Linked DNA regions of Homo sapiens. The protein of the gene in region 2 purifies or fractionates together with the protein of the main gene of each other region. This does not show direct contact. Each region holds a gene or a part of one and is shown on either strand. Other genes may lie near its edges.

Region 1 (3,516 bases), on a different chromosome or scaffold from region 2:
ATCCCATTAAAACACCCAGCTCAACCATGCCCATCCTCTACCCTCACTTCTCTTTGTAATTTTGACATGATTTTATTACAGGACCATCAGGTTCCTATGCCTGCTGCACAGTAGCTGACCAATATTCTGAGACAGCAGTGTTTGCAGCAGACAGTTTAATGATCACAGGGTGGCTAAATGAGAAGCTAGGAGGATATCCTCAAATTCATCTCCCCAAGTAGTACTGAGGGTTTCCAGTGGATCCTGGATAGCAAGGGGCTGGAAAGTTGGTGTAGAGGTAAGAGGGATGAAGTCATCAGGATGTCAAAACTGCATTCTTTGGTGAGTTGGTGCCTTGCAGAGCCCTTCAGATCAGCTGGCATCAGTAGTTTCACTGACATGCAGAACCTGAAAGAATATCTCAAATGAGAAAGTTAATGTTTTACAAGGCTTAAATTGTTGTCTGCAGGGTAGTTAAGGGGAACTGTAAGCTAAGGTCTACTTGATTTGGGGACAGTAAGCTGCCAGCAACCATGAGGAAGAAGGTCAGAGAGCAAGCTGACCTCATGGTGAATGCTGAATGCGCTGCAAGCTTGGTTTATTTTTGTTTCTCCCCCTCCCTTCTTCACTGATTAAACTTATAAAGTTTACAGGTATCATTTCAATTTCTTCCAGAGAAGACTTAACCTAAGCCCTGAGACCACTCAAGCCCTCAGTGGCACCTCTCTTCCACCAGCACGAGTGAAGAAACTGCTACCTTAGGTGATATAAAACCCACAAGACCATTCCATACATGGAGATCTTTATTCTTATTTTGTAGGGACGACTCCTCTGTGTTTATACAGCTATTTTAACTAGAAATATTTTTATAAATTTTATAATTTTGATGTGGCCAAAGATCTCCCCACAACACTACTTTCAGGTTTTATTTTTCTGTCTAATGTCTGGAACAGATCAACCCCTTCCCTGCCTCACATCAGGACTTGAAGGCGAAATAGCAGTAAAATTCCATCAGTGTTTGTGGATTTCATGAATGAATGCATTTTTTTTGACAAAATCTCCCTCTGTCGCCCAGTCAGGAGGGCAATGGTGTAATCTTGGCTCACTGCAAACTCAGCCTCCAGGGTTCAAGGGATTCTCCCACCTCAGCCGCATGAGTAACTGGACTACAGGCAGCCACCATCGTGCCTGGCTAACTTTTCTATTTTTGTAGAGACAGGGTTTCACCATGTGGGCCAGGCTGGTCTTGAACTCCTGACCTCAGGTGATCCACCTACCTTGGCCTCCCAAAGTGCTGGGATTACAAGTGTGAGCCACCTCACCTGGCCTTGAGTGAATGAATTCTTGATTTCCACTCTATCCCTAACTCTGTCAATTTCTTAATTCATAAAATGATTATGCATATGTGATATGAATGGATATCTCGTTCAATCCATTAGTCTTCGGACAGTCAAAAACCCAATCAGGATTAACTGAGTGGAGCTTCAGAAATGCAATCAGATATCGCTTTTTGATTGGAAGCTAGCAGCGGATACGTGGAGGGGCGTGGGTGGGAGTTGTGATTAGAAAGGTCAATAAAAGCTTCTAAAGACCCACAGGACAAACTCAAAGTCTTCAAGCCTGGAGTTCCTGCTTGGCTCTTCCTGAGGTCTGAGCACCTTCTAAACTACAACCAGATCTGGTAAGTCACTAATTTCTGTAAGGACACTCCCATGTGACCTACAGTCAGCCGGTCTAGAACGGTGACAGTGCAGCCTACGATGGCATAGAACTATATCATGTCTTTTTTTCTTTTTTTCATATGAACACTTTGAAGCTTTGATTTTTTTTTCTAAATGCAATTTTGTCGTGATTTCAAAAATGTTGTTGTGCTTTTCTTTACATCATTTCAGAATTCTTGTTGGCAGCCATTTTGTGAAGAGACGAAGACTGAGCTGTTTTGGCTGCATTTCTGGCCTCGAGCCGCAGTCAGTTTCTCCCCGTAGAACCCGGCAGTAGGAGACTTAGAATCGAATCTCTTCTCCCTCCCGCCTCCTGTTTTTGGCTTTTTGAGAAACCTTATCATCCAACACAATGGCCAGCAACGTTACCAACAAGATGGATCCTCACTCCGTGAACTCCCGTGTGTTCATTGGGAATCTCAACACTCTTGTTGTCAAGAAATCTGATGTGGAGGCGATCTTTTCCAAGTATGGCAAAATTGCGGGCTGCTCTGTTCATAAGGGCTTTGCCTTCGTTCAATATGATAAGGAGAAAAATGCCCGGGCTGCTGTAGCAGGAGAGGATGGCAGAATGATTGCTAGCCAGGTTGCAGTTATTAACCTGGCTGCAGAGCCAAAAGTGAACCGAGGAAACGCAGGTGTGAAACGATCCGCAGCGGAGATGTACGGCTCCTCTTTTGACTTGGACTATGGCTTTCAACGGGATTATTATGATGGGATGTACAGTTTCCCAGCACGTGTACCTCCTCCTCCTCCCATTGCTCTGGCTGTAGTGCCCTCGAAACGCCAGCGCATATCAGGAAACACCTCACGAAGGGGCAAAAGTGGCTTCAATTCTAAGAGTGGAAAGCGGGGATCTTCCAAGTCTGGAAAGCTGAAAGGAGATGACCTTCAGGCCATTAAGCAGGAGTTGACCCAGATAAAACAGAAAGTGGATTCTCTCCTGGAAAACCTGGAAAAAATTGAAAAGGAACAGAGCAAACAAGAGGTAGAGGTGAAAAATGCTAAGTCAGAAGAGGAGCAGAGCAGTAGCTCCATGAAGAAAGATGAGACTCATGTAAAGATGGAGTCTGAGGGGGGTGCAGAAGACTCTGCTGAGGAGGGGGACCCACTGGATGATGATGATAATGAAGATCAGGGGGACAACCAGCTTCATTTGATCAAGAATAATGAAAAAGATGCTGAGGAAGGAGAGGATAACAGAGACAGCACCAATGGCCAGGATGACTCTTAAGCACATAGTGGGGTTGAGAAATCTTATCCCATTGTTTCTTTACCTAGGAGCTTGTCTAACAACAAATTTTTCACCAGATCCTCTCCCTTAGTATCTTCAGCACATGCTTACTGTTCTCCCCATCCTTGTCCTTCCCACATTCATTAATTCATATTGCCCTGCGCCTAGTCCCATTTTCACTTCCCATGACACCCCTAGTAGTTTTCCTAAGTCTTACCCTGTAATTTTTGCTTTTAATTTTGACACCTCTTTATGACTTAACAGTAAAAAGGATGTATGGTTTTTATCAACTGTCTCCAAAATAATCTCTTGTTATGCAGGGAATACAGTTCTTTTCTTTCATACATAAGTTCAGTAGTTGCTTCCCTAACTGCAAAGGCAATCTCATTGAGTTGAGTAGCTCCTGAAAGCAGCTTGGAGTTACAAGTATGTGTGTTACACCCCATATTAGTGTGCTGTGTGGGGCAGTTCAACAAAAATCTAACAATGTATTTTTGTGAATGAGAGTTGGCATGTCAAATGCATCCTCAGAAACATAATTGGTGTTATAGTCTTCAAATGTGTTTTCTAAAGTTGATACCG
Region 2 (3,649 bases):
TCACACACCCAGGCCTACAGTTACAGATGCACATGGAGGCACGCGTGTGCACACACACACACACACACACACACACACACACACACCACCTCACGGGGAGGAGGGTGTGGGGGCAGCAGGGCTGAGTCCTGCAGGACAGAAGGCCCAGCCCGGCCAGCCTACAGTCTCTGGCTGATGGTGGGTTTCAGCCAGATGAGGCGGGTTTATTTGTATGTCTGAGGAAGAGCCCTGTGAGAAGACCTGGGGGTGTCTAGGGAGGCCTGGGCAGGGAGAGCCCGGAGGAGGCTGGGGCAGCCAGCAGGGTCTGTGAGGGTGCGAGAAGCTGAGGAGCGAAAGGACACCTGTGAGGTGACACCACGTGGCCTGGGAAGGGGCGAGGCCCCTGGCAGAGAGCAGGCAGGAGGGGGCGAGGCCCCTGGCAGAGAGCAGGCAGGAGGGGGCGAGGCCTGCGTGGTTCGGGGAGGACCTGGGATGTGCGGACCCTCTGGGAAGCAGCGGGTGTAGGGCTGCAGTTCAGGAGGGAGGGCCTCAGGCAGCAGCACTGCAGGGGCCGTGATGTGGAGGTGACACACTCCAGCGCCCCTCCCCCGCTCCTTCATGCCAGCCGCTCAGCTCACCGGGGTCAGAGGTTGGGGTTAGGTCCAGGGCCGGTGTGTAGCTGAGGATGGGGGCTGTGGGGCAAGGCAGGGTGCGCCTGTGGGAGAGGTTCGTGGCTGTCTTGGCGCCTGGGAGCTGGTGCTGCTCACGGCGCACATGGTGAGGCCAGGCCACGCGGTGCTGGCTGAGAACCTGAGCTGCTCCGGCCCTGCAGGGGTCTGCGCTTGCGATGCAGAATGCCCAGCCATGCCCCATCAACGTCGTGCCAAGTCACAGCCCAGCACCACGCTGACCCTGTCTCCCACCCCAGGCCTGGTGAGTGGCTACTCCATGACCCCCCCGACCTTGAACATCACGGAGGAGTCACACGTCATCGACACCGGTGACAGCCTGTCCATCTCCTGCAGGTACTGGGTCCCTCTCCCACTGGCAGGCCAGAGAGGCTGCACAAGCCCAAGGCAGGAGGTGGTGGCTGTGGGCCCAGATGGCAGCCCCCTCCCAGGGCAGAGTCAGGGCAGAGTGGCCTCGGGGCCGTGTGGTCTCCCAGGCTGTGGGTGACTTCGGTCCTCCCCAGCCTCAACCACACACCCCCATCAGCATTTCTTTTTTTTTTTCTGAGATGGAGTCTCACTCTGTCACCCAGGCTGGAGTGCAGTGGTGCGATCTCGGCTCACTGCAAGCTCTGCCTCCCGGGTTCACGCCATTCTCCTGCCTCAGCCTCCCAAGTAGCTGGGACTACAGGTGCCCGCCACCACGCCCGGCTAATTTTTTGTATTTGTAGTAGAGACGGGGTTTCACCGTGTTAAGCAGGATGGTCTTGATCTCCTGACCTCGTAACCCACCCACCTCAGCCTCCCAAAGTGCTGGGATTACAGGCGTGAGCCACTGTGCCCAGCCCACCCCATCAGCATTTCATATGGGGCCTCATCACCCTGCACCCCACTCCTGACACCTCACACTGACCCCAGGCCACCTCCCAGGTCATCTGCATCCACTCCCAGCCACCCTGGGAGCACCCACTGGGGCCCCAGAGATGGGTACCTCCCCACCTTCCCAGCTGTGATCCAAGGCCTGTGCTTGGCCACAGGCCAGCCCCGGGAGCCTGGTAGAGGCCCGGGGGTCGGGGAGTGCCCTGCCCTGGGCACGGTCTGTAGTGTGCGCCCAAACCCTGGGCAGTTCCATGCTCTGGGTAAGACAAACCTGGTGAGGCTCGGCCTGAGGGAGGCTTCTCAGGGACAGTCCCCATGGGCTGCCCTGGGGCCCACCTGACCACTCCTGTCCTCTGCCAGGGGACAGCACCCCCTCGAGTGGGCTTGGCCAGGAGCTCAGGAGGCGCCAGCCACCGGAGACAAGGACAGCGAGGACACGGGGGTGGTGCGAGACTGCGAGGGCACAGACGCCAGGCCCTACTGCAAGGTGTTGCTGCTGCACGAGGTACATGCCAACGACACAGGCAGCTACGTCTGCTACTACAAGTACATCAAGGCACGCATCGAGGGCACCACGGCCGCCAGCTCCTACGTGTTCGTGAGAGGTGAGACTTGGAGGCGGGCCAGGCTGGAGCAGGGTCCCGGGCAGCTGGGGCCCACACCGCCCCCAGCCTGTGGACCCTGGGCTGGCAGGAGGAGAGAACGGGGCCCTACCTGCTCCAGCGGGTGGCTGGTTCAGGACCAGCACCACCCAGCCCCGTGGAGCCCTCCCCCAGCCTGGCCGCCACGTCCCTTCCCCAACAGCTTGCTCCCTCTCCATAGACTTTGAGCAGCCATTCATCAACAAGCCTGACACGCTCTTGGTCAACAGGAAGGACGCCATGTGGGTGCCCTGTCTGGTGTCCATCCCCGGCCTCAATGTCACGCTGCGCTCGGTACGGCCCCACCCCAACCCCAGCATCCGACCCTCCCATCCCACCCCTGGGAAAGGCGGCCGCCTGTCTGGCCAGGAGCAAGGGGCAGCTGGGCAATGATGGTGGCCTTGTCCCTCCAGCAAAGCTCGGTGCTGTGGCCAGACGGGCAGGAGGTGGTGTGGGATGACCGGCGGGGCATGCTCGTGTCCACGCCACTGCTGCACGATGCCCTGTACCTGCAGTGCGAGACCACCTGGGGAGACCAGGACTTCCTTTCCAACCCCTTCCTGGTGCACATCACAGGTAACAGGGCTGTGCCCCGTTCCCAGTAACGGGGCTGTCACTGCCTCACTGGCCTCAGTGGGTGTCGTCCTGTGAGGGCGTGGGAGTCACTGTGTGCGTGTCAACAGGCAACGAGCTCTATGACATCCAGCTGTTGCCCAGGAAGTCGCTGGAGCTGCTGGTAGGGGAGAAGCTGGTCCTGAACTGCACCGTGTGGGCTGAGTTTAACTCAGGTGTCACCTTTGACTGGGACTACCCAGGGAAGCAGGTGAGGTCAGCAGCGCTGCCAGGCTGTCCTGTCCCCAGGAGTCCCTGTGACTGTACAGCACACACTGGGCCTCCGCGTGGAGGATGTGTGGGCCCAGGCCTGCCCCAGGGGCCCCGGTCTGAGTGGCAAGTGTTCCACCCAAAGAAAACTCAGGGCCTGGGTCCAGGGCTTCCGGAGCCACCGCTGGCTGGGCTGGGAGGTGTGCCTTCGGTGGGGTAGCTGTGCAGGAGCCCGCCTGCTGACGCGGGGCTTCCCTGGGTGCGGGCAGGCAGAGCGGGGTAAGTGGGTGCCCGAGCGACGCTCCCAGCAGACCCACACAGAACTCTCCAGCATCCTGACCATCCACAACGTCAGCCAGCACGACCTGGGCTCGTATGTGTGCAAGGCCAACAACGGCATCCAGCGATTTCGGGAGAGCACCGAGGTCATTGTGCATGGTATGGCCTGGGAAACCAGGGTCCTTGTGCCCTGTGGGCCTGGGCCCAGAGCTCACGGTGCCCTTGAGCACTCAGGAGTCCAGCCAGAGGGAAGGGAGGGCCACGAGCAGAGGAGCTGCCCAGCTCCTGCACCGGGCGGCATGGCCAGCCCCAGTCTGCGGATGTCCGGCTGCCGGGGCTGCAGGGGCCGTGGGGGGAGTCCCTGGTCAGTCCACGACGGGT

What was found. The genes of interacting proteins can lie anywhere in the genome.
Region 1: the proteins of FLT4 (region 2) and HNRNPCL2 purify together in Homo sapiens (affinity purification with mass spectrometry; one large-scale study listed by BioGRID and IntAct). This does not show direct contact.

What each region holds. Positions count from the first base shown.
Region 1 is NC_000001.11:13,114,937-13,118,452, reverse strand, and holds HNRNPCL2 (heterogeneous nuclear ribonucleoprotein C-like 2), read left to right. Parts: upstream 1-1,598; 5' UTR 1,599-1,660; intron 1,661-1,871; 5' UTR 1,872-2,052; coding exon 2,053-2,934; 3' UTR 2,935-2,965; downstream 2,966-3,516.
Region 2 is NC_000005.10:180,629,037-180,632,685, reverse strand, and holds part of FLT4 (vascular endothelial growth factor receptor 3 isoform 1 precursor), read left to right. Parts: intron 1-811; coding exon of another isoform or gene 812-907; coding exon 908-1,004; intron 1,005-1,886; coding exon 1,887-2,131; intron 2,132-2,348; coding exon 2,349-2,461; intron 2,462-2,580; coding exon 2,581-2,743; intron 2,744-2,850; coding exon 2,851-2,990; intron 2,991-3,258; coding exon 3,259-3,427; intron 3,428-3,649. UniProt on the Homo sapiens protein: Tyrosine-protein kinase that acts as a cell-surface receptor for VEGFC and VEGFD, and plays an essential role in adult lymphangiogenesis and in the development of the vascular network and the cardiovascular system during embryonic development.